Regions from separate parts of the Homo sapiens genome. Here all the other regions are linked to region 3. The links come from fine-mapping of genetic effects on gene expression. A gene starts in region 3. Each other region holds a variant in brackets. All regions are shown on one strand. Distances are between the middles of the regions.

What was found.
Region 1: its variant is fine-mapped to the expression of NUAK1 in whole blood (TOPMed, PIP above 0.99).
Region 2: its variant is fine-mapped to the expression of NUAK1 in blood mononuclear cells (TOPMed, PIP 0.90).

The regions. Positions count from the first base shown.
Region 1 is chr12:106,107,885-106,116,320 of GRCh38, reverse strand. All of the region lies in intron 1 of NUAK1 (NUAK family kinase 1), which reads left to right. Among named protein-coding and RNA genes, the nearest start is that of NUAK1, 27 kb to the left of the region's middle. RefSeq lists enhancers at 1-552, 553-1,129, 7,210-7,954, 7,955-8,436. The variant A/G (reference allele first, on the strand shown) is at 2,781.
Region 2 is chr12:106,061,621-106,072,516 of GRCh38, reverse strand. NUAK1 (NUAK family kinase 1) reads left to right here. Exons shown (of 7, transcript NM_014840.3): 6 at 1,611-1,743; 7 at 4,562-9,172. The coding sequence ends at 5,715. Among named protein-coding and RNA genes, the nearest start is that of NUAK1, 72 kb to the left of the region's middle. The variant C/G (reference allele first, on the strand shown) is at 4,438.
Region 3 is chr12:106,133,521-106,144,416 of GRCh38, reverse strand. It overlaps NUAK1 (NUAK family kinase 1), which reads left to right and starts at 5,463. Exons shown (of 7, transcript NM_014840.3): 1 at 5,463-6,003. The coding sequence starts at 5,764. RefSeq lists enhancers at 3,522-4,141, 6,533-7,034, 9,452-10,294, 10,295-10,896.

The DNA.
Region 1 (8,436 bases), 27 kb after region 3:
AAGAAGGGATTCCACGTTTGAAAGGTGAGCAAGTAAAAGAAGGCTCAGCGGCAGATGGCTGGGGTTTAGGTTGGCTGGAATGATCAGATGTCCCACTATGGTTTTCTGTTTGTCAAGGGTCCTTCTTAATACTTGGGCTCCATTTTAGCAACAGCTTTTTTGTATATACTGTACATTAGGCACATGCTTAGTACTGGAGATGCCGTGGTGCATAAAACAGAAATGATTTTCGTGCAAATGAAGCTTATGAGCAATGGTGAGCGAGGTTATAAAAGGGGACCCATATCTGCAAAGGGGTCATTGCAGGGGATGGGCCATGTCTGCAGCAGATGGATGCAGAGGAGTTGGTCAACCGAAAATGTTAATGGCGAGGACAGGATGTGGAGGATCCTGGCAGAGAAAATGGCAGGTGCCATGTCTAGGGGCATGAGCACACTCCCCAACCCAGGGCACAACTAGGGTCTCCAAGATGACCACAGACCCCTGCCCCAGCCTCCTTGAGGGTAGGAACTGAGAGTTGAGTACTGGGCGAGGCTCATCCCCATGATGGGACGGCAGGAAATGCTCGTCTGGGGCCGAGCACACTCCTCAGCTCAGCCTGCGGTTTCTTGGGGCTGTGCATTTGCAATGAGCAAGAGCATCCCAGCAGGCAGGCTTGTGGAGCACTAATGAGGGAGATGACAAGCCTCCCGATGGATCTTGCAACGGGCTGGGGAGGAGGGACCAGCCTTTTAACTCTAGGAATAATGGACAATGAGAGCTTCTCTTGGAAGGAAAAAGATGCTTGTGAGGAGATAATGAGAGAGGCCTCGGGGGCTCCTGAGTGCTCTCCAGAGGCTTTGGGGGACGGACTGCAGCCTGCACGGTTGCTCCCGCCCTATCTGATAGGTCTTGTACATTGCTATAAATCAGTTTTCTAAACAGAAGAGATTCTGTCTGGATAAAAATAACTTCTGCAGAATCTTCTCTTTCACTTATTTATAAAACCATTCATGATTAGAATATAAAATAAGATAGAAAGTCATGCCTCTTTTTAGCTTGTTGTATTTTACCATATTAAGAAATGAAGAAAAGTTTTTTTGGTTCTGCTCACCTGGATCAGCTAAACTCAACTGACTAATTTCCTTTCCCTTTGGAAAACTAATTTTGCTTCTTAGGTTTTTGTGTTCCTAGCTCATTGTCCCCAAGGTTAGTGATTCAGTAGTGGCCTGAAGTTATCATTTAATAGCAGTGTTTGCAATGAATTAAGAAATAATAGGATGAAAACTTCCCAAGTATGCGTATTCATGGGTGATATTAAATCAGTCTTCAGAAATTGGAGGAAAGTTTGGATAGAACTGAACTGAAAACAGCGTCTCTGGCATAGCTATGTGAGGACAGACATTAGATGGAGGTGAAATACACCAAGCTGCAGCACAAGTCATGATTTGTCAGCACCCTGAAGAGTATCTGCCACTCCCATCTCGGTTTATTAATGATGCAACAGTTCTGGGGACTTGGCTGTGACTGGAGCCAGCCTCCCATGTAAATGTTGAATTTTTTTTGTGGCAGTTTCAGCCCTGCTGCTCACTGTGGCTTAGTATTTGATTAGGAAGGACCCCTTGCTCAGAGTGTTTATCCCTCCTGGAGTGGGAATCAGGACTCTCTTGTTGCAATTCCAGTGCTGCTGATAACTTCGTGAACTTGGGGCCTGTATGTACTTTAACCTCCCTGGGACTCAGTTTCCCCATCTGTAACATGAGGAGATTGGCATAGAGCATTCTAAGTCCTTACAGCTCTAACATCTACTCATGATAACAGTCCTCATTTTGGCTTCTGCCGTAGGTACTATTTGCCTTCTCTGCCTTCCATCATATACACAATCTGCCATGTTGCCACAGCAACCTTGTGAGGTTGGTACCATCATCATCCTCATTTGCAGGTGAGGAAACTGAGCCGGTGGCGTGATTATCCGAGTCCCTCTCCTTATAGGAGTCGCCTTGGCTGGGTTGCTGTGACTGATGACAAGCCCAAGGTGCAGATGCTGGATTTCTTAGCAGTACTGGCTCGGGTTCTTCTGGGTTTGGAGGTTGATAAATAAAAGTTGCACAACCTTAAGCTTATCCAAGCCTTGTTATAAACAGTGTCAGAGTGATCAGATGCTACCAGTTGAGGCTGTCCAAGTTGTAAGCAACCTCAGCCCTCTGGCCCAGCCCTTTCTCTCCCTTCCCAGGGCAATTGTAACCTGGAAGAAAAACAGTTGCACTTTAGAATTCTGATTTGGTGTTGCATTTGGCTTCAGAGACGTGAACGTCCAAAAATAAACAGCTGCTTGGCAACTCCAGTCTCAGCTAAATGGCCTGGCATTTTCAGTCTTTCTTTGAATCTGATATTGTCTGTGTTAGCGTCTCTTGTGTTACCAGAGGCTTTTTCGTGCTCCGGGTTATGTGTAGACTGTGAAGTAACCCATCCACACCCACATTCCCTGGCATCACTTCATCCACAGGCCCTCCTTGGGCTGGGACTAGGGAGATACCCATTGGAAGCAAACTTTCCATTTACCAGGGGTAAATTAATTCAAGTCACTGAGCCCCCTCAAGGAAGCCTGTGTTTAATTCCTCTGTGTATAAATGGAAGGTTCATTAATTTTCATCAGTCATCTAGTATGTAATATAACTGCTTCCTGTTTAAGCTACAGAACAATAGGTGTCGTCAGGGCCACATTTACCCTGCTTTAAGGTGACTGCTCTCAAACCTCAGAGTGCAGCAGAATCACCTGGGAGGCTGTAAAGAATGCTGAT[A/G]CCAGGTCTGCCCCCTACCCTGAACACTGCCACCTTCATTCACTAGCTCTGGGGTGGGCCCAGGAATCTGCATTTTAGCAATCAGTTTCCCCTTTCCCCCTAACCAGGGGATCGGAGGCAGGTGATCTGCTCACCACCCTTGGACAGATAGTGCTCTAGAGTCTCTGACTGTCCTTTTCAGGCGGGTTTGTGGCTCACTTTTGGCATGCCCACTCAGCACGAACTTTCCGGTGGCCTTTTTGCTATTTCTTTGGTTCTTGCCTGGTCAGCCACGGTTTGTATCTTATGTTTACAAACCTCAACAGGGAGTGTGAATCTGCCCACGGTTTCTTAGTCATTAATTCCACTTCCCTTGTGGCATCACCACTTGCAATGACATTCTTAGCTCAGTCTTTGAAGGGGAGAGGGGTGGGGGTGAGTCTTAGAGACCAAGGAATGACTGTCCCTGTAGATAAAAATGTCCCAGCCCTGAGGTCCTCCTGAGCTGGCCCAGGCCCAGTCAAGCACGAATCTGCTTTGTTTTTTATGTTCTGAAAATAGAATGCATTTTTTATGGCAGGAGAGAAATCAATATCATCACAGGAATCATCATCTCTTTTATGTAGAATTTTGAGAAATAGAGGTTTGAGAACCAAGTTACAGAGGATTAAATTTTCAGAACCTCTTACAACATTAAAGGGCTGATGAGGGCCAGTGAGGGGATGCCACTCTTTGAAGGAAAAGCTCCTAGCTACACATACCATGCTCCCTGGCTTCAGTGCCTCGCCTCAGAGCCTGTTGATACAACTCTTGGCTTCCAATCCATTTCTTTCTGAAATACATTCATGTAGGACATGAACCAACAGGCTAAAGAGGAAGGGAAGAAGAGGCCCATGGGCCCCCAGGCAGAGCTGGCTTGGTTCCCATGGGGCCCGTTGCATCACAGCAACTTGCTGGGGTGTTGTTCTGAGTTGGCCAGGCCCCTCCATAAAGAGCCCGGGGTCATTTAATTAATTAGGGGCTTTGTTTGCAAGATGGGTGGCATCACCGTGGTGACTGTCCTCGGCCAGAGGCTTTTTGAGTGAAAGCCACATGGTGATCCTGGGAGCTTTGGACCGGTGTGGCCTCGGTGGGGCTGTGCCTTGCCCCACACTCTGTGCATCTCCCAGGCAAGAGCAGGAGCACTTTACAGCCTCCAGCCGGGCTTGGCTGCCTGCTCCTGCTGCAGGCGGCCTCTGGGCTCCTAGGTAAGGAGAGATCCCCTGAGCTGCCTCTGACTTCGTGCCCTGCAGCTCCCGTGGAACGTGCCTGGGTATGAGATCACACCTTGTGAATGGCAGGGAAGTTGCCAGCTCGTGTTGCTGGGATTAGGATGCAAACTTGTTCTCACTAAGTGATGCTAATGCCATATTTATGACTGTGTTTCTTCCCTGCTGCTCAGCCCTCCAGTCCCTCCTTTTGGGACCTCACATATGACCCTGTAAAACTTCATCTGCTTGGAGGGGGGTCCATCTCACTAGGCTTTAGGGACCCTTTCGGATCCTACAGGAGATTCTGTTCCCTGTGATGTTTTCTATTCATCCCAACTTTATTCATAGCCTTAAAAATCAGCAGCCTCTGGGCTCGAATTCTAGCTCCACTTTTTTTTTTTTTTTTTTTACAGGCTATGTAACTTTGGGAAATATTTATCTTTCCTGGCCTCAATGTTCTCATCTGTAAAATAGGATTGTAGGTAGGCTTAAATGAGATAAGGTCCACTGGCACATGATTAACACCTAAGAAATATTAATTATTGCTATTATTAAGAATATTGCCACTGATTTAAAAATGTTGAGGGTCAAAGACGAAGCACTAAGACCTGGCTACTCCAAGTGTGGTCCCTGGGGCTGGCATCACCTGGGACCTTGCTGGAAATGCAGAATCCCAGGCTGGATACCCAGACCTATGGATTCAGAATCTGCACTTTTTCAAGATGCATGGGTGACTCCTATTTGAGAGGCACTTCAAGAATACTCCTTGAAGTCCAGCTTATATCAATGAATGAGCATGCAGGGAGATGGTTGCAAAAGGAGGAGGGCAGGGATTCTCTTGGTTAGAGCCTCGACGACATACAACCTGCCCAGACTCTCTGCCACGCCCCCAAGGCTGGTCCTACACTACACAGGCGTCCTCTCCATAAGACACCAGGACACCCTGGGGCTGGCCGGATATTAATTTTAACCTGCTTTTGCCACTGTGCAAATGTGGGGAGGGGAGGATATGTGTGGGGGTGGAGAGGAGCCAAGAGACCTATGATATGATTTGCTGTGGGCTCATTACCTCTTAAGTGTGGTTTATAATCACTGCCATTCAGTGAATACTGTGTGCTGGGGCCTTTACTTACCTAGTTTCCACTCCTCACAACAACCCCAAGAAACAGGATTTTGTAACCCCATTTTACAGGTGAGGAAACCGAGACCTGGGAAGTTTGGGCTTGCCTGAGGTCACCCAGCCGGTGACAGTCTGAGCATTTACTCTTCTACTCTGCATCCCCCAGCCCTTCCTAGGTCACCAAGCTCTGAACACCCACAGCAGCCAATGTGGGAGAGGATGCCCAGCAGGCCACAGAGCAGGTGGTTTTTGGTGATTATTCAAAAAAGGAAAAACCTCCAACCCTCAAGAGGAGGCTGTGCCTGTTGCATGTAACAGAATTGGCTGGGCTGAGTTTGCCTCTGAAACAGGCAGGCACTGCAGGGCGGGATTCACAGGTTCTCCACCAAACCTGCTGCTGCAGAAGGTTTAAACATTAAACCATAAGGTGGCCTTATTTAAAAGCAGACCATTTTATAAGGCACATGGTACTGTCTAGACTTGGGAACATTTATGAATGTGGCTGTACTGTGAGTCGGGCTCAAACACCTGAGTTCCCTCCTCCTCTCAGGCTCTCTGACTTGTACAGGAACAAATGGGATTTTTAGGGGTGGAGGGTGTGTGATTTCAGACATTTGGTAATCTCTTCCTGCTGGGCCCCTTCCTTACCTCTGTGTTTCTTTGTAGATGTGAGAATTGAGGAAAACTGGAGAGGAGGTTTCCTCCGCAATGCCGGGCATGTCTGTGCATTTCTTTGGTAGCCCTGGCCATGAGGGTAATTATGTAATTACTGGTGTGAGTTTTGCTTATTGCCCGTACCCTCCCCACCCCACCTCCCACCTTGAGGGCTGGAGCAGTCGCGCTGGCTCCCTTTTGTGTAGCCGGTACTTGGTAGGTTTTCAAAAAGAACAAGTGGATGAACAGTCAAATTTCATAAAGGCTGAAGTGTGAATATCTTGAGGCTGAGTTTTGATTTTAAGTAGGAACATATTTGTGCCCTGTTCAGCTGAATGGTGAAAGGAGACAGTGTGGGAGCGGGTGGAGAAATGCTCCTGGGATTGCTTTTTGGGTTCAAGATGTTCATCCTCCTGTCTGGTTTGGACTCAGGAGCCCTGCTGATAATGGTGTGTAACCAGCTGATCTGATCTTCCTGATTTCAGATGAGGTTGCAATGTAAAGACCCAGGATGGAGATGCTCTTGTCCTTTATGTACTATGAAAACATGTCCCTAAGACCTCCACTCACTGTCTCTTGAGGAGCCAGGAGGAATTCAAGTTTGCTCTGAAAAAGAAAGGAAGAAGGGAAGGTTCTACTTACAGAACACTCACTCTGGGTTAAAAAAGACTGACACTTATTTAGCAGTTACCCCCTGGCCCAGGTGTATTCTTGAGCACCTGATGTGTAATCCTTACCAGGACCTATGAGGCAGGTACTATTATTTCTCTACTAGATGAATGAGAAAACTGGTGCACAGAGAGGTTATGTAACCTGCCCAGGGTCACACAGCTAGAGGGTGATTTTAGCCTGGACTTAAAGCCATGTTCCTAAGCATTATGCAATACTGTCTGTGCACTGGCTCAGTGTATCCTTCAACTTCCTGAAGCAGATACTTTTGCAGGAGCTGCGTTAGAGATTTTCTTTTTTTTTTTTTTTTTTTCCTTAACAACCCTTAAACAATATGACAATCATTCTTAGCTCCCTGGGTCCTACAAAAACAGGCTGAATATGTGGCTAATAAAGTAGTTGGTGTGAAATGCTCCAGAGAAGATAAAATGGGAAGGGTATAGAGAGAGGGAGGTGGCCATAAGTGTGGCCTTATCAGCTAGAGGGATCAGGAAGGATCTCCCTGAGAGGGTGGTGTGAAGCTGAGGCTTAAATGAGAAGGGTGCAAAGATCCCTGGCATGTAAAGCATTCAGCACGGTGTCTGCTCCATATATTAAGTGGCTAATGAATACTGGCCATTACTATTAGTAGTAGTAGTGCTTTTTTGTTTTGTCATTAACCGGCTGTCTGAACCTTGGATGGGTCCGCCACCACTCTGGGAGTAGAGCTGAATGTCTTCCCTCCAGCCTTGGCAGGTGCACAGATGAGAGTGATTTCTAGCATTTGTCTCCTCCTGACTTCCTGTCACCCCTTTGAAACAGGGGAGCAGAATGCACCCTCTTTTACATTTTCAGTGGAAAAATCATTGTAGGAAAAGGGAAAATTTTTGTGGAGAGACAGCCACTATGCTTATTAACATTTATGGAGCCCTTTTAGTTTCCTCAGTGCTGAGCAAGGCTTGATGAGAATGTGGGCACTTTCCTTTTCACACCCAGCTGAAAGCATCCCCTGGCGATTGCACCATGGGACCCTCCGCCTCGCTGGACTGTTAGGGGGAATCAGCAAGTGGGCCTATTTTTTTACCCTTTAGAATGTTGCTACCCTCCTCTGACCCTGCATGGTGAAGAATTTATGCCTATTGTAACTTGACAATAGAGCCTCCTTGAGGCCAAGTTCAGCTTGCTGCATAATCAAAGGGGTGGTTTCTACCCTCGGCCATCTTTAGTTTATGGAGGAATGTAGGAGTTGTTCCAGCAGCCACCCACACCCTCCACAGCCTGTGTGTGTTCACTGTCTGCTTCCTCCCAGAACAAGGTCCCAGGATTACAGCCCTTCCTCAGATAAAATAAAGCCATCCAGTCATATCTTTACATTTGACGTAAGTGAAGGGAAGTTTTTCTTGCCCTATACTGAATGGGGCTGTGGTGAGGACTTGGGGTAGCTCTGAGTCTGGCTCTCTGCTGAAAAGGGGCCTTTAAGCTGGAAGGCTCATTCATCTCCATGCAGCCTCCTTCTATCCAGCCATGGGTCCACCCAGGGTCGAAGGGAGGTGGAGCCTGCCCCTGGGTTTACAGCAGGGCCCCCTGTGTTTTATATTTGTTTAGCTATTCCTCTATTGCCTGTGTAGATAGATGTTAAAGGAATTCTTAATCTTCTTACTATTATGCTTGTCGTGGCAGTATTATTTAACTGGGGTGGTTCCCCCTTTTTTTTTCCCCAGTTCTGCTACCACCTCTCTGGTCTGAGCTTGCATCAATTAATAACAGCAACCCTCCCCTCCCTCTAGCTTCCCTCCTTTCCTCCTTCCCTTCATCTTTCCTTCGTTTTTTATCTACCTGCCTACCTGCCTACACTAAATGTTTTCCCGGGTCTACCGTATGCCAAGCATGGTGTTAAGGACTGGAAGTTAAATAAAGCAGTGAATAAGATCCCTACCAGTGTAGAGTCAAGTAAAGACACAAATGCTGATTTAATCACAACTGGGGTAAGGACTGCAAAGGAGAA
Region 2 (10,896 bases), 72 kb after region 3:
AGGTACCTGCCATCCCCCTAGAAAAGATAATCACTTAAAACTCTAGTGACTTTTAAACTTTTCCCAATGTAGATCTCTGCATTTCAAAAATAATTGAGATCAAGTTAATAAAAGGCAAGATATACATATGTATGTGACACACGTATGTATATCTTGCCCTTTACTATGAAAACTATCTTGTGGCAATTTCCAAATTCATTATTAAAAACATGATTTTAATGACATTTTATCAATGAATATACCAAAATTTATTTAGTAATGTCTAGATGTGAACATTTAGTTTTTTCCCTATTATATCAAAACAGACAAAACAAACAAACAAAAAATTGCCTCACTCTGGGGTAAATATCTTTTTTGTATATATTTTTGGCAGCATGCATATCTGACTAAGGAAATACATTTTAATGACATCTTCTAATTCATGAGAAATACATTTCCCTACATGCTAGCGCTTTCAAGGGCCACTGTAAGATATGGGTATATGGAAATTTTATTTTGAAAATGAGTGAGTTGTGAGTGATGATTCTCTTTTTGAAAGATGGTTCTCTTTTCAGAGTTCATCCACTCAGTATCCTTTAAATAGCAGCTGCTCAGTGTGTTGAAATGTTTTCTTTCAAATATTTATGTGTTTGAGAGTGTTTGGGGGCAGGGCTGAAGGGTAAAGAGAAGGATGCCAAGACCATCTATTAACTGCAATGAAGAGAAAGTCTTTCTAAAATAAGAATGTGAGGGAGGAGCATAGAACTCAATTTACAAACTTGTAGAAACTCGACACGAAATTTCTCATAGATAATGAATATTTTGGTCTTCGATGACCTGTTTTTGAGGTTCCAGGCTAGCAGTCTGTGATCTGGTCAGCAAACTCCTTTATTTGGCCACCTTAGTTTTTATTAAAAAAATTGAACAAACATGTAATAATTGGGAGATTTCATGTAAAAGTTTGGTTTCTGACTTCTCTTGTAAAACCAAAGAATCGAGCAGTGCTGGGCCCATGTTACTACATGGCAGCAATTAGCTAAGGAGAGGCTGTCTGCCTAAGACGGGTGAATGTACTGTACAGTTTGTCTCCATCCCCAACACTCTATGTCATAACCCCAATTCTTTCTTGCTTTGTGTATATCTGTTAAGATTTCAGTTTGTAATTCCTGATTCATTTGAAGAAAGTGCAGGAAGGAATTGATTCCTGGATTAGGAATGAAGAGCCCCGCATCCCAGTTTTACCTCCGTCACTGGGGCAGGGCCTCTGGAGAAACCATTTAGGTTCTTCGTGCCTCAGTATTCTCATCTTTTAAATGGGGCTGAAAATAGTCCTGGCTCTAACTGCTTCACAAAATTGTAGTGAGGATTAAAGAAGATAATCTGTTTAAGAAAGTTCTTTACTAGTTGGGACCACTGGCCTCTGTTCAGAATGGAAAGGTCAGGCTCTGTAGCAGGTCCCAGCTGCATTGCTGTCAGGTGTCAGGCTGCACTAGGAACCTATCTTCCAGGTGCTAAATTCAGTTCCTGGGGCTGCTGGGGGTGGCTGCTCACAGGCTATGATGCTAATGGTTTGGAAGGCATCTTGGGATCTGTTTCCCAGCTCTCCTATATGTGCTGTCTCTCTGCTCCAGGTGGACAGCTGGGCCCTGGGTGTGTTGCTTTACACTCTTGTTTATGGAACAATGCCCTTCGATGGTTTCGATCACAAAAACCTCATTCGGCAAATCAGCAGCGGAGAGTACCGGGAGCCAACACAGCCCTCAGGTGCGTGCCCTGTGGAGGGAGGGTCAGAGGTGGAGGGGAGAGAGATCTGCTTACCCAACTCTTATTTTCTGCTTTTGTTTTAGTATGTCTGTCTGGAGTCACCTGGTTTTCCTCTTTCTTCTTCCCAGAAGTGTCATCCTTGGCAAAACTGGCTTATTAGGCTGCTTTCCCCAAACCTTCCCAAAGGAAATTTTCAGAGCACACCTTCTAGGAGTCCTGTTTGCTTGCTTTGTGGATCTGGACAAGTCACTTAATCTCTTTGGATTCAGATTCTCCACCATAAATAAAAACGTTGGAAAAGATATTAGATGAGGTCTCTCCCAGTCTGAGTAGACATAGAAACCACTCACCTGAGAATGTAAATACTGTGAGGGTGGCCACTGCTCTGTCTCTCACTACTGTGCCACTGGCATGGGGCATGGCTCATGGGTTCTGTCTCATTATTGATTTCTGTGTAACAACTCTACCCCATCTGCCCCTACAAAACAAACTCAGTGGCTTACACAACCATGAAATCATCTCTTTCACCCCTGTGGGTTGGGAAGTGCTCTTATGGCCTTCCTCTCCTACAGTTGTAAGCAGATGGCAGTTGGGGCTGCTGCTGGGGCTGAATGGTGGACCTTCCTCAGTGCTCTCTGAGGTGCCACCCCACAGTGGCAGCTTGGGGTTCTAAGAAGGAGGAATAAAAAGTTGCCGAGCTTTCTTTCTTTTTTTAAAATTTTTCTTGAGAGAGTGTCTCGCTCTGTTGCCCAGGCTGGAGTGCCAGTGCCATGTCCATGCTTGTACCCAGATTGTGTCACATCTGCTGTGTTCTATTGGTCAAGACAACCACGGTCATGAGCTTCATCTCTTGATGGGGAATATCATGCCTGTATAGAGAGTGTGTACAGCTGGCCATCATTGGTCATTTTTGTTAACAAATGAAGTTAACATTGGCACTTCATTTATATACATACTATACACACGCATATATATATATGTATATCTGTATACCTACACATACACAGTTGATTCTCATTCATAGTAGTTATGTTCTACAAAGTTGCTACAAACACTGAATTTGTGAATATTGAACCATTGCTCTTAGGGGAAATAGAGGGTTAGGTTCCTGAGAGCCTCTGCTCACAATATTTTTGTTAACTGATTGATATATAACCTTGTTTTATGTGTGTCTCTGTTTAAAGACACCTTATTTAATCTATATTATTAATTCATTAACATCAAACTCAACAGCCAACAGCACTGTAACTCATGCCTAAACAAAACTGATCTAAGACACTTATCTTCTCCATAAGGCACATCACAGCCTTCTTGAGCTTAGGAACACTGAACAGTGCTTCAGCACTGTTTTAGGGAGGCATTTAAAAAGAGGAATCACCAATAAAAATTCCAAAAAATGTGAGAAATACAGCACTAAATAGACTGAGAAAAGGACAATTTGTATAATAGTATGAGAACTGAAATAAGAAGGCAGAGTGTTGCCTTGTTTGACCTCCGCTGTGAATACATATGTGTGTTGGGGTGACTCAAACTTTTTGCTGCTCTGTGCATATGCAAAAATGACTGCAAAAGAGCTGCGAATATTGATTTTGAGGTTACCAATAAATTTTAGCAAGTAGGCAAATTTGCAAATACAGACTCTATGGATAATCAGGCTAGACGGTTGTATGTGTATATATAGATATGCATTATCTCTCTCTCTATATATAATTTTTTCAACAAGCCAGCCTGTTCTTTTTGGAAAAATTCAGAGTGACCTCTAAAGTGGTCTTCTTTGCCTCACCAGCTAACTGATGCCAATGCGGTTCCTGGCACATTGTAGGCGTTCAAGAAATACTTATTGAATGACTGAGGATGATCATCTTGGTACTTTTCAGGGGTGTTTCTTGCCCCAGTCCCTATTACCAGGCCTTTGCCAGCTTCTCATTCGCTTACATAAGCAGCTGAGGGGAGGTGGCAGCTTCCAAGAATATAATTCACCCCAATTGGGGGAACACAGTTTGAACCTAAAAGTCAGTTTATAAGCTGTGAGAGTCAGTTGGTTCCTGTGGCCTTCTCAGCATCCCTTTAGGGGTTTTCCCTAATTCTCTGGCAGCAGAAATTTGCAGGTAGAATTTCCAGACAGGCTGTGAATGGGAAGCAGATATAGATCACTTCTCTGATCTGATAGCTCAGTAGAAGATGGCTTATGTCAGAGAGGGAAAGAAGGCAAGCTCACTGAGTGTTGGTCTCAGAACCTGGCCTGGACCTTGGGGCGAGGCCAGCTTTGGAGATGGCCACGCTTACTGCCCAGGTGTTCCAGGTAAGTGCCTCTGAGCCACACTCCATGTTCTGTCTCTGGCATGCTTTCCCAGTGACTGCAGGTGCTGTGTGTTTATACAAGCCCACCTTTGGAGGAATAAAGAAAGCCATGGTTATCTACACCTGTTTTTCCTCTGGTAAAATGATATTCGCCAAAGGAATGGTGGGGCACCTCTCAGGGTCAAGTCTGGATTCTTTCTTGGTTACCTGACCTTCCACATTTTCTAAAGATTCAAGATGATGAAAAGCTTAGTAGTTCTATGACATTTTCTCACTTACAGGGAAAACATGCCATGATGTGATGGCACCCTGGCCTGTGGTTCCAAGTCTTGATTATGCTTTTGATGGATGATCTGAAAGGCTGGGGCTTCCTGCTCCATAATGTGGCTGGAC[C/G]AGGTCTCCAGATGGATTTGTCCTAGAGGGAGTGTGTGTCTTTCGTCACTCCTGGAGGGTCCCACTATCACAAAGCCAGAAGCTCCCACATAATGCCCGATTCTTTTTGTCCCTTGTCCCTTAGATGCTCGAGGACTCATACGGTGGATGCTGATGGTGAACCCCGATCGCCGGGCCACTATTGAGGACATTGCCAACCACTGGTGGGTGAACTGGGGCTATAAGAGCAGCGTGTGTGACTGTGATGCCCTCCATGACTCTGAGTCCCCACTCCTGGCTCGGATCATTGACTGGCACCACCGTTCCACAGGGCTGCAGGCTGACACCGAAGCCAAAATGAAGGGCCTGGCCAAACCCACGACCTCTGAGGTCATGCTAGAGCGGCAGCGGTCGCTGAAGAAATCCAAGAAAGAGAATGACTTTGCTCAGTCTGGTCAGGATGCAGTGCCTGAAAGCCCATCCAAGTTGAGTTCTAAGAGGCCCAAGGGGATCCTGAAGAAGCGAAGCAACAGCGAGCATCGCTCTCACAGCACTGGCTTCATTGAAGGTGTAGTTGGTCCTGCCTTACCCTCTACTTTCAAGATGGAGCAGGACTTGTGCAGGACTGGCGTGCTCCTCCCAAGCTCACCAGAGGCAGAGGTGCCGGGAAAACTCAGCCCCAAGCAGTCGGCCACGATGCCCAAGAAAGGCATCTTGAAAAAGACCCAGCAGAGAGAATCAGGTTACTACTCTTCCCCAGAGCGCAGTGAGTCTTCGGAGCTGTTGGACAGTAATGATGTGATGGGCAGCAGCATCCCCTCCCCCAGCCCCCCGGACCCAGCCAGGGTAACCTCCCACAGCCTCTCCTGCCGGAGGAAGGGCATCTTGAAACACAGCAGCAAATACTCAGCGGGCACCATGGACCCAGCCCTGGTCAGCCCTGAAATGCCCACACTGGAATCCCTGTCAGAGCCTGGTGTCCCTGCCGAGGGCCTCTCCCGGAGCTACAGCCGCCCTTCCAGTGTCATCAGCGATGACAGCGTGCTGTCCAGCGACTCTTTTGACTTGCTGGATTTGCAGGAGAATCGCCCTGCCCGCCAGCGCATCCGCAGCTGCGTCTCTGCAGAAAACTTCCTCCAGATCCAGGACTTTGAGGGGCTCCAGAACCGGCCCCGGCCCCAGTACCTGAAGCGGTACCGGAACCGGCTGGCAGACAGCAGCTTCTCCCTCCTCACAGACATGGATGATGTGACTCAGGTCTACAAGCAAGCGCTGGAGATCTGCAGCAAGCTCAACTAGCATTCCAGGGCGCCCAGGGGCGGGCGGGGGTACGAGGGAGGAAGGGGAGCAAGACTTGGGCTCACAGGCTGGTTACCTCTTTGCTGGCTGTGACAACAGACTGAAAAAGGATTGGCACTGTCTCACTTGGCCAAGTTTGCAGCCTTGAGCCAACACCTAAAAGGGAGAGGTGGGCTCTTCTGCCAGTTCTGTCAATTGTCAGTCAGAATTTGGGCCCTGTTTGGCATTTGCTTTATGGCACCTCCTAGAGGACCAGCTGTCCAGGGGAGGTGGTATTGACCGGCACTCAGTGGGTGGAGAGGAAGCATATGTGGAAGGAGCATTTCCTTAGAAGTCATCCAGATGCTTCTGGAGGAGGGGCAGGAGACACTTGGGCTGTTTGCCTTGGGTGAGCCCAAAGAACTTGCCCCTTTTCTCCTTGTATTAGCAAGCTAGGTCTGGCTGCGTGGAGCTGGCAAGTAGATTTCAGCAACTTGAGCTTGAGTTGACGATCAATTAATAGTGGCTGCCAGTTGTGCTGGCGTAAGTGGCCCACATCATGGGGAAGGAGTGCTGTGATTGACTAGTAATGGCTACCACGGGAAAGGGAAGGGGAAGCAGTAGCACTAATGCTATGTAGTTGTCATCTTTGATCTGGCTAGGCCCTGGGAATCGGGTTTAGTCATCCTGTGGGATCTATGTTAACTCTTTCATGCCACTGGTGAGGCATTTGTTAATTTGCTACTCAACTTTGAGGAAAGACAGGGCCTTGGTCAGAGAGAGAATGCTCTGAACTCTGCTAAGGACATAGAGTCAGCCCATGGTGATTTAGCTCCTTGCTGTTCACCTCCTCTTTCCTGATGTCTGCCTTGCTCTACAGCACAACCTCTTGAGGGTGGACAGGGAGAAAGATGATGGTGTCAGAGGTCAAAACTATTATATATGACAGGGCACAAGATGGTCTGTGATCTTTGCACAGATGAATGGAAGTTGATGCACACCAACAAGAGGCAACTTGTCACTTTCTTTCTCAATATTAACTGGAATGCTGCCTCTTGGGTTCTCACCTGCATGGATGCTTTGAGTTGGACGTGATACTGTCCATATTCTCCAGAGGATTACCTGGCTGAACCATTGGCTCTGTTCACCAGTGACAGATGGTTTCCCCATCCACTGAGTGTAGCATCCTCAGAGGTAGGCAAGTTTGCTTCTAGGGAGTTAGCATGTAGATGGGATATTGGGATGAGGAAAGGAAAATCAGGTAGATGGTGCTTTTTTTCCCCCAAATCTAAGTATTCTATGTCATGGTTTTAAACTTTGCCATGAACTCCTGGGCTTTGGGGGAAGAGAAAGTTCCATTCATTTAAATGAATAAGGTGTTGAAAGAGTGCAGGGGGTTGGGAGGAAGCATGTAAGAGAGGGAACATTTCCTTAGATGTTACCCAGATGGTTCTGGGGGAGACAGAAAAGAGGTGCGGCAGGACTCTTATCTTAAAAAGTAAACAAAACAAAACAAAACAAAACAAAAAACTAGATATGTAATTTCTAAACACCCAGATCACAATGACAAGATGCCACTCCAACCATGGGACACCTTCATGATACTAGGTTTGTACTTCCTGGTCTCTGGGATGACTTCAGATTCTGCTGGCCAAGGCAAATTGAACTCAGTTCAAGATGGCCACCACTGGTAGACGTGTAGATAGAAAAGAGGACTGGTCTTGGGAACATCTTTGGAAAAACCAACAAACAATAGTTCTAGGGAGATGAGAAAAAAATTCACCTTACAGTGCTAAGAAAGTGCATTAGAATGGAATTGCCCTTTCCTTAAGGAGACAGTTTGGGCTCTCCCCTTGCCACCGGCTCTGGTGTTTTGGCTTATGCGTTCCTTCAGGTTGAGCTGAGCAGTGTGTTATGGGAAGCTGCTCAATTTCCTTTCATTCAATTCCACCTCCTTCCTGAACTCTAATAGAGGTTAAAAGGGAAAAAAAAAATTCTGTAGATAGCAAATTGTGTGTGTGGGGGGGGGTGGGGGTGTGGGTGCATGGAGGACAACCTGCAACTCTGAGCTCCCTACTTCCTGCCTCATTTCATGCAGTCTTTTCTGAACAGCCTATGCTGCTGCCCTGCTGGCCCCTTGTGCACGGCAGCTGGCCGTGTCCGTAGCTGTCAGTATGACTTAGATCTAGCTCCTACCTACTGGTTGATGTGTTTTTTCCTTTTGCCAAGTGATTGAGTCTGTTTAGTAGTTTCCATCATTCTAGTCTTTAAGTAAAAATGACACTATTGAGGAAAGTCAGTCTACTCCCTTCTTCCTCCCCCCAAACACGTGTTCTCTTTTGTCAGGAAACTCAGCCAGTGGACTGTGGCAGAGAAAGTCCTCCACTCAGAGGCAGAGACTGAGTTAAGTCATAGGTGGCCTTAGGCATCTGCATTGTTTGCAGGGGTTAAGTTTTCCTTCCAGTGAGGGCTGGAGGGATGAATTAGCTGGTACCTGAAGCCCCGCTTAGCTCTGACACTCTGCCAACATCCTCTGATTCTAGGTGTGGTGTTGACTGTCCTTTCAAGGAAAAACTTGCAATAGAGGGAAAAGCCATTAAAGCAGCTCCCTGCTTCATCATTAAGTCCTGTCATCCCTACCAGCCAATCCCAGTCAAAGAAGTTATGCTTTATTCACTTCTGTGGAATTACAAGTGAGAGACACTTTTAGGACCTGATGGACAAAGCAGGAGATTCACTGTCAGCTTTCCTGGTCCTCTCCTTACTTCTGTGGGCCTTGCACCGTCTTAGTTTACACATCTGCCAAAGGGGTAGAATTACACTTCTTTTTACAGGTAAATGTCAAGGCACAATCAGTTTTCAGGAAGTGCTTCAAGACCCCAGGTGAAATGAAAATGCTAAGTACCCTCTGAATGGCCATGCCTGTTACCAGGTGCTGCTTCTTCAGATGATGGGGAGCACTTTTCAGGGTGAAATTCAGGCGAGTTTTGCCCAGGCCTGCTGTCTTGAGTACAAATGTGAATGATCGACTGACTGCTTGTTGCCAAACTGGAAATGTTCTGTAGGGATTTACTGGCATGGTATCATTCCTAGAAGAAAAAAAGAGAGAAACTTGACTGCACATTAAAAAAAAAAAAAAATCCACATTGTGACTTTTATTTAATTTCTATTTTTTTTGGTAATAAAAAGTTGACTTTTTTATTTGAATTTGTCTTTTTTATTTATTGGTCTGAAAGGCATTTCAAAGGTATTATAATAATATATTGGTGTAATTTAATTGGTGCAACATGCTTTATGGCTCCTGTCAAAATTGGTTTTCACTCATTTGATTGGTTTGAGCCCAGAACAGCCTACAGGGGAAAAACAAGCTGGATAACCACCCAAAGTGTTTGTATTTTCGTTGGAAACTGATTTTTGTTTCATTTTGGTTTTTGTTTCTGTTTTTATTTTTAAATTAAATAAATTGCAATGAACTGAACCAGAGACCTTGCTTCTTTATTTGGTGGTTTTTTCTTAGTCAAGTAAGTGACAGAATCAATATAAGTAACAGAGACCTACCCAAATGAGCTTAAGCACAAAAGGGAATTTATTCGAAGTTCTTAGAAGAGGAAATGCATCTTGCAGTGCCGCTGGAATTAAGAATTGGAGTGGTGGATTGAAGAGGACAGTATACCCTCTTTTCTGCTTCTCTTTGCATATCAGCTTTCTTCTCCTTTTATAGCCTGGCTTTCTTCTCTCTGATTGTGGAACCCACCTTGGCTTATCCCGTAGCTTCCAAATTTACATGTTCTCAGTCTTGGTTTCCAAAAGAGACTACTCACCAGGTTCCTTAGTTCTGAACTGGAGACGTCATCAAAGGCTAACACTCAGCCACGCTCTTTCTCCACATTTCAGTTTCCTGTGCCTGCCCTTTCCCTAGGCACTCCCCTCTATCCCAAGGGCAGGAAGTTGCTAATCTGATTGGGATTAATCAGAGTCCAAGATCAGTGGGTCACGATTTCCTAATGGGGAAGGCCACTCACGGCTCTGCCTAGAATGACAGTATCTTGAGTCCCATTTTGCCACTGTTTCTTGTGTAAATAGACCCTCCAGAAAGCTCTTGGAAGGAGAGGTGCATCATAGAGCAAGATTGAAGAGTTCCTGGATCCTGGCCATAATATCAGGTGACATCAAACCCTACCCTAGTATCAAACATTAGAGAGTGATGCTGTGCACAGAATAGTAGTGTTTTAGGATCCATGCCAGAAAAGTCTGACTTTCCAAAGAAATTACAACTTGCACCCCTTTTCTAGTTTACTGGAAGAACATCTGATGTAGCATTGTCACATTTAGCAAATAAAACTACAGAATGCCTAGTTACATTTGAACTTCACATATACTATGAATAATTTTTCAATATAAGTGTGTTCCAGACAATATTTGGGTCATGCTTATACTAAAAAAAAAAAAAAAAGAAATTCAAATTTAACTGAGCATACTGTATACTATCTGGCAACCTAACCTGATAGGGCTTAGTTGTCCAAATTGACCAGGTGCTGGGTGTGGTAGGAGGTTGGGGAATGGATGCTTATAATTGTGGCTTGCCAAATTAGAACACGTTGGTGCCTCTCAGGTTGGGCTGAGGTTGGAAGAATTCCAAGTTCAGTCTGGACTTGATAATTGCAATTAAGTTGCTACACCTTTTTGGAACTCAGCTTTCTCAGCTGTCTAATGGGTATATTAATTGCTCTCTTATCCAACTCTAACAGGGCTACGAAAAAGAAGGAATGAGAGAAATTCTATGAAGTCACCTTGAGTATAAAACTCAATATGAATGAGAAACAATAGTCCTTTCTTTGCAGGGCAATAGTCACTGACTTAAAATAGGACATTTAAAGGCCTGTGGGCTTTTAATTCTTGCTTCAACCCCTGCCACCACTAGCAAATGGGCAGTAAGTTGCAGTTAGAGGGGCTGTAGGTCATTTGTGGAGTACGTTTACTTAGAAGTGTGACCCTTGGAAAATACATAATTCTGTATCCAGGCAGAAAGAATAGCCTGTGCATGGCCTAGAGGCTGGACCAAATGTGACATAGTAAGGGTAGTGAAAAAATAGGGGTGACTGTAGTGGCAGCAGTTGACATGTTGACAACTGTTGTGGGGTTAATGGGCAGTGGTCACTTTAAGGAGGAAAGTTGAGAGAACTAACATGTATTTAACTTCTA
Region 3 (10,896 bases):
ACCAGTCCAATGTCCTGGTCAGAGAATGACTTTATTTCTTAAGGTGAAGTAGTGGCCCAAGTTTCTTTTATCTTATGGCTTCACCATCCACTTAGGGCCTCCAAGTCCTCTGTTTCCAGCTAGGCAATGCGGAGAAGGCACACCCACTTTTTAAACACCCTGGATTGGAAGCAAAAAACATCACTTTTGCTCATGTTCCATTAGAGAGACCTAGTCTCATGGCCACACTTCGATGTATGGGAGGCTGGGCATTGTCCCTGGCTGAGCAGCCGTCTGTCAGCTCTATGGATGAAGCAGCATGAATTTTTGGTTGCAATTATCTTCCTTCCACTACAGTGAAGACTAAGCACTTATTTAGCTTGCTATTTAAAGTAAATTGTCCACCAGACCACATGTTTAAGTTAGAAACATCACAGTCTTAGGTAACTTTTCAAAACTTCATCTAGCAAAGTGTAAGAACAGTTATCAGCCAAAGCACAGGCATTAATTGACATGAGCTCGGGATAGGGGTTGGAGCAAAGCCTTAGAGTCGGAGGCTCGCGTTCAAATCCTGACTGCAGTTACTGTTTGATCACAGGCAACTTAGCCTCTTTGAGACTCAGATTTCTCAGTAGCAAAATGGGCAACATAACACCCACCTTGCAGTTTTACGATGATTAGCAGGGCGATATGCATATGTAGGGGTCCTAGGTAGTAAATAAATAATGTAGTAGGTAGTAAATAAATAATGACTGCTACTACTATGTTTTCTGAACAAATGTTTCTTTTTTTTCTTTTATTTTTAACTGACACATCATTGTACATATTTATGGGGCACAGTGTGATATTTCGATACATGCATACAACGTGTAATGATCAAATCAGGGTTATTCACATAGCAAACATATATCATTTTGTTGTGTTGGGAACATTCAAAATCTGCTCTTCTAGCTATCTGAATATATAAAATAAATTATTAATATAGACAATATATTGTATATAATTTATATACAATAAATTATAAACATACAATAAATAAATATATACAATCAATAATGAATATATACAATATAATATTCTACTGTATGTTCTTAAATACACAATATAAATTACTAATTTATTGTATCCTCCCAATTAAATTATTAATTATAGTCACCCTGCAGTGCTATCAAAGATGAGCACTTATTTGTCTTATCTAGTTGTAATTTTGTGCTCGCTAACCAACCTTTGGCTATCCCTGTCCCCTCCCCCAACCTCTAGTAACCACAATTCTACTCTCTACTTCAATGAGATTAACTTTTTTAGCTTCCACATATGAGTGAGAACATGTGGTATTTGTCTTGCTGTGCCTGGCTTATTTCACTCAACATAATGTCCTCCAAGCTCATCTATGCTGCCTGAATGACAGGATTCCTGAACAACGATTTCTTGAGAAAGCGAACATACCTTCTTTCTTTTAAATTGCTTTGAAAATAGAAAGTGCAGTGAAGGACCAGTAATGAGCCTTATGTAAATAAAAGATGTAGGATAGTGTGGATGTCACACTTTCAAGTGCCAATGTTACTACATCTGTCCTGTATCCAAGAACAAAACCAGAAATCAGAGTCTAACCAAGCAGTATGATTAAACTGCTTAAAATTGCCCCAGGCCAGGCACGGTGGCTCATTCCTGTAATCCCAGCACTTTGGGAGGCCTAGGCAGGTGGGTCACCTGTGGTCAGGAGTTTGAGACCAGCCTGACCGACATGGTGAAACCTCGTCTCTATTGAAAATACAAAAAAATTAGCTGGGCGTGGTGGCACATGCCTGTAATTCCAGGTACTTGGGAGGCTGAGGCAGGGGAATTGCTTGAACTAGGGAGGCGGAGGTTGCAGTGAGCCAAGATCGTGCCATTGCACTCCAGCCTGGGTGACAAGAGTGAAATTCCATCGCAAAAAAAAAAAGGCTCCAAATTCTAGTAGGAGCTATGGAAGATGAAAAGTATCGTATTAATATCCACGATTTATTGAGTGGATATAGTCTAGCCCTTAATCCTCATACCAACCCTGTGGGATGTGTTATTGGCGTAATTGCTAATACCACATACATTGTTACTGTCAGGCCTCTGTGCCCAAGCCAAGCCATCGCATCCCCTGTGACTTGCACGTATACGCCCAGATGGCCTGAAGTAACTGAAGAATCAGAAAAGAAGTGAAAATGCCCTGCCCTGCCTTAACTGATGACATTCCACCACAAAAGAAGTGAAAATGGCCGGCCCTTGCCTTAAGTGATGACATTACCTTGTGAAAGTCCTTTTCCTGGCTCTTCCTGGCTCATCCTGGCTCAAAAAGCTCCCCCACTGAGCACCTCACGACCCCCACCCCTGCCCGCCAGAGAACAACCCCCCTTTCTTTGACTGTAATTTTCCTTTACCTACCCAAATCTTATAAAACGGCCCCACCCCTATCTCCCTTTGCTGACTCTCTTTTTGGACTCAGCCCGCCTGCACCCAGGTGATTAAAAGCTTTATTGCTCACACAAAGCCTGTTTGGTGGTCTCTTCACACAGACGCACATGAAAGTTACCATCGCCACTTTGCAGATTAGAGAACTGAGGCATAGAGGGGGAAAACAATTATCCAAGATGATCATAAGAGGTGGAACAGGGATTTGAACCTAGTCACTCTGCCTCTAGATCTGAAGCTCTTAATCAAGGAGCCTGGGCTCTTGTTGGAGAAAATGCTTTATCGATGTGAAAACATTCACACACAATGCCTGATAGCATTGTGCTGAAGTGTGGTTCCAATTATAAACGTGGTAGGAATTCAGTCTGGAGAGGAACTCCCAGTGCCTGGGCATGACTGTGTGCTAGGCATTGTACTGGGTGTTTTTCATCCTTCCCATTTAAGGAGACGGAGCATGGCATATATGAAAGGAGAAGGGGGAGCTTTGGAACTGGACAGGTAGGGTTTAAATCCTGGTCCTGCCATTTACAAACTGTGTAACCTCTGGGAAATTACTTAACCTTTCTGATACGGTTTCTTCAATTGAAAATAGGGATTGTAAACAGCTACTTTACAGAGGAGGGTTTACTGTCATAAAACAGTACCAGCCTATGGTAGATGATGCTGTTGATTCAATAGATACTGATGAAGTCCCACATATCTGGGAGTAACACTATCAGCCAGAATAAGCCAGGTTATGCTGCTTTAACAAATCCCACTGACTTAACATAAATAAAGTTTAATATTTGCTGACACTACTTTTCCAATGCAGATTGGCTGGGATTTTCTGCCATCTTTACACAGAGACTCAGGCTGGCTTGGGGAGGCTCCAACTTTGTACCACCATGATTGTCAAGATAGGAAAAAGAAGACATGGGGATTTGCTCACTGGCTCCTAAAGGTTCCAAGTGAAAGCAACACAATCACTTCTGCTCTCATTCCATTGGCCTAAGCAAGTCCGATGGTCTCATCTAACTTCAAGAGGATGGGGTAGTGGATTTCTACCACATCGCAGGGGAGGGGAAGAAGTAGAAAATATTTTAAAATACTACTGTAGACACAATGTGTTTATCTCTACAATAGATCTGCTAAATCCATATCTTAAGAGAAAACCGAAGCTCTGAGAGGTTATGTCATTTGACCAAGGCCACACAGCCAATCCTCTGGGAAGCCAGGACTCAACCTGCATGCCACTCATCCTGACTGTGGGATCTATAGGCACAACGTCCACAAACTGTATAGAAGCAGAACAGTTTCAGGATGGGGGTGGGTGGCAGGGAGGCCCTGCAAATGCGGTGGACAGAATAGGAATTGAATAGGCATGATGCGCCTTTGTGTCTGTGTTCTGTCATTGCTCCTGGGGAAGGGAAGAAGGGGCAGGGAAGTTTGTGTGAAATATCAGTAGAAGGAAAGTTTGGACAGGTAAGAATATCACGCGTCAGAGTACAGCAGAGACACGTGTGGAGGATGAGGGCAGTGTTTCAGGCCATTACTCTGGCAGCAGTGAGGAGGCTCCCGGGGAGGGTTGGGGAGAGCGGGCTGTTGCTGGAGTCCGGGGTAAGGTGACCAGGGGTAGACAGGAATGAAGGCGGCGGGAATGTAGAGGAAGGGCTGCACCTGAGAGCTGCAGAGGAGGCCCCAGTGAGGTCCACTGGTGGAAAAGAACCGCCATGCGATCTGCAGAACACCAGACCTTCTTCAGCCTTCACTCTTCCCACCCTAGTCTGGTACATTGCACCACTTGTTAAAAAAAAAAATTTCCCTAAGACCTCTTTTTCTCTAGCCTTCTTCCTTATTTTTCATGGTCTCTTCTTAGAACGGCGGCAGCCACGCCGCGGTGGGAGGCCCTTCCTGCCTGACCCTTACCGTGCGGGGTACCGTTCCTGTCACCATCGCCAGGATCTGGCCCTTTCAGTGAAAGGAAATCTCCCAAGGCCTAAGGAGGCAAGAGGCCTGCAAATCGCCTCCTGCTCAGCAAACGGGTTGCTCAGCAGGCCCGGGGTCCTGGTCCACCCCAGGTCCCTGGTTTGCCCACCTCCGATGGCGGCCTTCGCTGGCAGGGTGGGCGCCTCTGGGGAGCCAGCTCCGTCCCGGCGCCTTTAGAGCCCCATCTCTTCCACGTCCCTGGCCTTCCTCCCCTTCCAGGCGGCTGTCCCCGCCGGGGTCCAGATGGTGTCGGAGGGCCGGCGGTTCGACGGCGGGCCCGGGGTTCAGCCTCCCGGCCTCCCTCCGTCCCTGACTCTCCTTTCTTCGGAGAGGGCGCGGGGGCCGGGGCCAAAGCGCCGCTCTTGGGGTTCTCCTGGACTCGGAGTTGCCCCAGGCGGGCGCAGCTCTGCCCCGCGGGGTGCCAGCCTCGGGCGGGCAAGGTCCGTGAGTCACCGCCTGTAACCGAACACCAGGCCTCCCTGCCCCCTCCCCCAGCTCCGGCCGCCAGGCTGCGGCGACACCTACAAGAAAATGAAGGGGCGCCCAGGCCCGCGGCGGCCCCGGCCGTATCGCGAGCAGGTCCCGGCGGCCCCCGGCTCGCGGCGCTCTTTCTTCCCCGGCCCCGGGGCTCGGCCAGCCGCAACCGCCGCCCCGGCGCCAGCAGGAATCCAGGCCGAGCGACCGGCCCCGGAGCCCGAGGCGGCGGAGGGCCCGCGGTAGCTGCGACTGGCGAGCCCGAGAGCGCCCGGGGAGGGGGCGCCCGGCTTGGAATTTCCCGGTCCCTTCCGGCCCAGCGAGGACAAAGCACTCCTGGCCGCCGCCGCCGCCGCCGCCGTGGCCTACGCCGCGCCGCACAAAGGGCGAGTCGCGACACGCTCCCATCCCCCTCCCAGCTCACGGCGGCCCCGGCCCCGGGTGGCTGCAGGGAGGTGGGGGAAGCCCTGGCTGCACCGCCCCTCGCTCCCCCTCCCCTGGGGCCGCGCGAGCGCCGCCCCCGCCCCGTCTGCGCGTCCTCCCGGGGAGGGGTTGGGGGGCGCGGCGCCCCACATAACACTCCCCCTCCTGCGCTGCGAGCCACCCTCTCCCCTCCCTCCTGCAAACACCACCGCCTCCCCTGCCACCGCCGCCACCTCGCCCGACGCTCCACAGCTCGCCGCGGCCGGGGGGCGGTGCGCGGACCGTGCGCGCCGCGGGCGCCAGATGTGCAGTCCCCGCCGCCGCCAGTGACCGAGCCGCAGTCCGAGCGGTATCGGGCCGCCTCCCTGATGCTGCGGGGGCGACCTTGAGCGTACAGCGGCTTCCCTCGGTGGGGACCCCGACATCCCAGCGCTGTGCCCGGTCTTGCCCTCTGTAGCCCGGCTCGCCCCGCGCTTGGACATGGAAGGGGCCGCCGCGCCTGTGGCGGGGGACCGCCCCGACTTGGGGCTGGGGGCGCCGGGCTCTCCCCGAGAGGCGGTGGCGGGGGCGACTGCAGCCCTGGAGCCCAGGAAGCCGCACGGGGTGAAGCGGCATCACCACAAGCACAACTTGAAGCACCGCTACGAGCTGCAGGAGACCCTGGGCAAAGGCACCTACGGCAAAGTCAAGCGGGCCACCGAGAGGTTTTCTGGCCGAGTGGTGAGTGGGGCAATCCTGGAGGGTGCGGGGGGCGCTGGGTGGACGCGGCCGGGGACTGAGGGCGTGCGAGGCGGGGGTCTGTGCGCCCTGGGGCTCTCTTGACAGAGAGGGGGCTCATTGGGAAGCCCCGAGACAGACTCCTCACTCTTTCTCCAGCACCCCGTGACTCAGGCGTGTCTCTGTCCTGAAACACTTGTTACATCCTGTCTGCACATATTTTATTTTATTTTTTGGTTTGTTTTTAAAAATTTAATCCTAGCAGCAAAGGAATGTTTTAGATTTGCAAACACTTTGCAGCGTTGGGACGGCCGGGGTCTCTCTCCCTCGCAGGCACTCATTTAGACCATGCCCCGAAACGTCTTATTTCCACAACTCTCCAAAGAACCACATTCCCAGCTAGGAGCTAGCCCCTCAAGTCCGGTGTTTTGTAGGTGTCCCTACCCCCTTCCACCCATCTGCCCGCAGCTCCTTGCTCTGCATCCTCCCACTCAGACTCTGCATCGCCCTGATACTGCTGTGACTGCAAGGGAGGGCGACTCTTGCCTGTTTTTGAGACAAGGTTAGGGAGCAAAAATAAAGACTACTGCAAGCCTGAGGATTCTAACAGTTTGCATCATGGCTTTGGGAGGACCGAAATGTCCAGGGCATGGGTAGCTACAGAGATAGCTGTGCTTAGTTGCAGCAGGCTCAGTTGTGTTTCAGCTCCTGGTTGCAGGGCTACCAAACCGCTGAAGGGGTCTGGCCCCGCTGCTCTTGTGACAGCTGACACCCTGCCAGGGTCCTGGCACCATTTGCACAGCTCCAAGGAGTGCTTTGAGTGCCTTGGGGTCTGTCTGCCTTGTCCCAGCCTTGGTTTGTTGTTATTTTCACTTCTGCAGAACAGGCCCTTGAAATCCACACTGCTTGTGGCTAGAGAGTTGGGTTCAAAGTGACTGACTGTTGCAGAAAGATTTTGTGTGGTGTGTGGCAGAAAATTAACATGGTTCTTTGATTTGAAGCAGATCAGATGTATTCTAATCGATTTAGGGCCAAAGTCAGAAACTGATTATGGGACTCCTTGTGTGCACTTTTGGGGGTGTTTTGGAGGCTCAGGTTTGCTTATAAACAACAAATGACTGCAGGGAAAAAGGAAAATGAGCTGTCAAATAAAATAGCAGCTTAGTATTGACATGTTTCTTTTGCATTTCGGCAGGAACAGTTCTGTGAAAAAAACATGGGGGTGCCAGTCAGCAAAGTTCAGTCCCCAAATTCTCAAATATCTGGATACCCGGATAACGCCCTCCCAACCCATTTCTCAGATTTGATGTTTGGGTCTATATAACTTCGTCCCATAACGTTATTTTAAAAAAAAATCTGTTATCAATTAATTGGAAATTTGAGATGGCGTACATTTCTTTTTAAAGCTGGCTCTGTAATAAATTCTACAGCAAGCAAGTAGTTGAGAATTCACTCTGGGCAGGTGCCATTTTCGTAGGATGAAATTGTTAAAGGGGAGGGTTGTAAGGGTGGCCTCTGATGAAGGCAATTTCAGGTTTGTGGAAGAAGAGGCTGGGAAACGTGCACTTCATTCATGCTTTTCTTCTGAGGTGATATTCCCCAGGCTGGATGTTGAATAAGCAAAAACTAAGCTTAGATCCCTGCTCATGTTGTCTTAATAGCTGCTGAAGAATCGCACTGGGAAGGTGGGAAGCAGAATAATGAAAAACAGACGCAGTTCGAGCTGCAGGTTGAGAATGTGAGGCTATGAGGGGTTGTTGAAGTGGTAAGGGTGTGTCTAGGGTCTGTGAAGGGACCCCAAAGTCTAAATGCTGGGGCACTACCTCAGACCTTTCTAACGAACGAACCCTTGTCTTATGGCAGACGCCTTTCTGAGCGTCAGTGGGACTTCCTGTCAGGCGTTCTTGAGCTGTCTGATCCACAGACTAGGTTAGAGTGAAAGGGATTTGCATCAGTAGGCAGGAGTCCGCCTTTCTCTTTTGGGGGATGTCTTTCTCTGTATTTGCAGAAACTGAACATTCCGTCAGGATTTAGTCAAGCGGCCACGAGGGGGCGCCCTGAGAACGAGAGAGGCTTCTTTACCAGCCGCAAATCTGAAGTCCCGCTGTGTTATTGTTCAGCCCTAGTTCATTTTCCCATTGTGCTATTAATTTCAGCTAAATCTCTTGTTTTACCCCAAAATTATGTAAAGATTTTAAATCTGGCAGCAGACCCACGCCCAGAAACTGACAGTCTCTAAAATGCTTCGTTTATTCATGGGGCTGCTTTCTCCTTGATAGCTGAGCTTACAGAATGTTAGCCAGATCCCTGGGTAAAAACCTTGCATAAAACAGATGGGAAAACTGAGGTTTGGGGAAGGAAAGTCCTCCTTGGCCCCCCGTCCTCCCCCTGCTGAGCACACTGCTCACAGATGGTGTTAAGAACTTTAGTGAGAAACAGGAATTGTCAAGTGGAAAATTTCCTGTGACTGGCTGAACAGAAAATAACACCAAACAAACAAAAAATTGGTCAACGAGTTGTTCTTGCCCATACAGTGCCTGGTGACTCAGAACCTGTTAAGAGCAGTAAGACATTTTCATCTAAAATATGAACTTGGAGTTTTCTTCTGGTACCAGCGATGTGCTAAACATTCACAACATGCTTTGAAGGTGCAGTTGAGGAGAACTGAAAGGGCACTATCTTAATTTAGCCTTTTGATCTTTGGGTAGAATTTTGAAGTGATGTTTTATTTTCATTTGCACCAGTGCCTTTTACAGCATCTCTCAAGAGGAGCAGTGGTTCTAACGTGTTTTACTAATGTGAGTGGCCCAAGACAGGTGCCGAGTATGGGGTTGTATGAAATGCTGTGAAATCAACATCCCTGTTGAAAGCAGGGGTTCTTCTCAGAGAGGAGAGAAGTTTCTAAAAAATGAGGATGTGATGGTTTTTAATTGCATACCTGGAAGGACCTTCTGAATAAAACAAAACACAACACAGCATCATTTTCTATGTGCCGCGAAAGGCAGTTCTGAAGAGAAGTGCAGAATGAGATGCTTGGAGTCAGCTGGTGCGACCCTGTGTGTCGTCCAGGCACTCTCCTGCAGTCTTGCAGCCTCTGCTAAAGCATGTCCGTGAGACCAGGACTCAGAGTGGCTTGTTCCAGAGATGAACAAGCTCAAAAATGAGGCACTCTTGCAGAAAGGCAAAGAGCCCTGGCTTACATTCAAATCCTTGATCTATCCCCTACTAGCTTTGTGTCTTTTGGCAAGCTATGTGACTTTTTGAAACCTCAGCTTCTTCATCGGTAAAATGAGCTACTAAGAGTACCAACTTCATAGACTTGTGAGAACTGAATACAGTGATCTATATAAAACCTCAAAAGGGGACATTAATCAATTTAGTTCCTCCTTTTAGCAGATTTTTTTTCTCATCTCATTTTAGGATTTCATTAGATTTTAAGACCATCAGAGAGACAATGCATTGTATCATGCAGAGAGAGATAGAAGAAATAATCAACTTTTCAGAGTAATAAAATAAATACCAAATTAATTAGGGAGGTGTGTCCATAGGAAGATGAGATAATTAGCCAGATTCAGATAGGATCTGAACACATTTCTCAAGTCTTGAATTTGGGCCTTGTTTATTGCACAACTTTGGTTTTGATACAGTTTTGGGCAGGCCTACTGGGTGAGCCTCTGTGTCATAATTCGGCATGCATTTTCTTTGAGCTAAGCTCCCTGGACCTACAGGCCACACAAAGCGTTGCCAAAAATCCCAAAACCAAAGCCACACAATTTTATGTCCTGTGATCACCTCGATGTCAAGGGGCCAAGTTCAACTTCCTCACTGTACCAGGTTATCTCTAGTGAGCAGTAGGTGGTGTGGTGTGAGCTGGAGGCAGGGTCCCTGGGGGGGAGTCTGGGATGGGAGTGGCAGGACTGGTGGGCAATGTGTGCCCCTCCCCCACAGTCTGCCCTGGTGCCCCTGGCCACTAGAGCATTAGCTTGGGTGATGGGGCATCCTCACCTAGCAAGCCAAGTGTTTTGACCAAAAATGGGTGTTTTAAGCACCCAAAGCTATTCATAGCCTCCTGCTGGAAAACTGCAAATCAGGGAGGCAAATTAGCAAACTGGCCTGCCAAGCCAGGAGGTGTGTTGACGTCACATGCACGGTGGCAGAAGTGCCATGTTGCAGCTAAGGCCCAAATACAGTTTTAGAGTGTAAGGGACCATGGCAAACATGTGGTTCAAACTTGTCATCTTCGAGGTGGGACCAGTAAGGCGCAGAAGTGTTAAGTGACTTTGTTGAGGTTGCACAGGTCTTGAATGACGGAGCTGGATCTTAGAAACCCGATTCTTGGTTTGGTATTTTTCCATCACTCATTTAATAAATCTTTACTAGAGAAAGACATGGGCCTCACTCTTAAAGAACTTATAATCTAGTAGCAAAGGTGAAATGTACTTGCAAACTAATTCTGTTCAGTTCGATGAAGATTTATTGCCATCTGCCATGTGCTACTCACCATGTTAAATGCTGAGACATAGAAATGAGTAAGACCCAGGGAGCTTCCAGCCTGGTGAAAGAGAAGGCAGAAGTAGTTACTAGGCATGAGTAACTCTTCCATAGAGGATTGTTTCAGGTGATTTTCAAGTTGGACAACAGTTCATTGAAGCTTAGCTCATGAAAGTGAGTTTGATCCTGGACAGAATCATATTTCTACTGCTACCATTATTTACTACCAGCTGATATTTTTGAGAGCTTGTGGTGCATCCCACTGTGCTAAGTGCTTTAGAGACATTTTCCCTCACTTAACTTTCACAGCAACCCTGTGAGGTGTAAAATAGTGAGACCCATTTTACAGATGGGGAAAATGACACATAGGGAGGTTAGGTAACTTGCCAAGGGTCAGACAGCTGG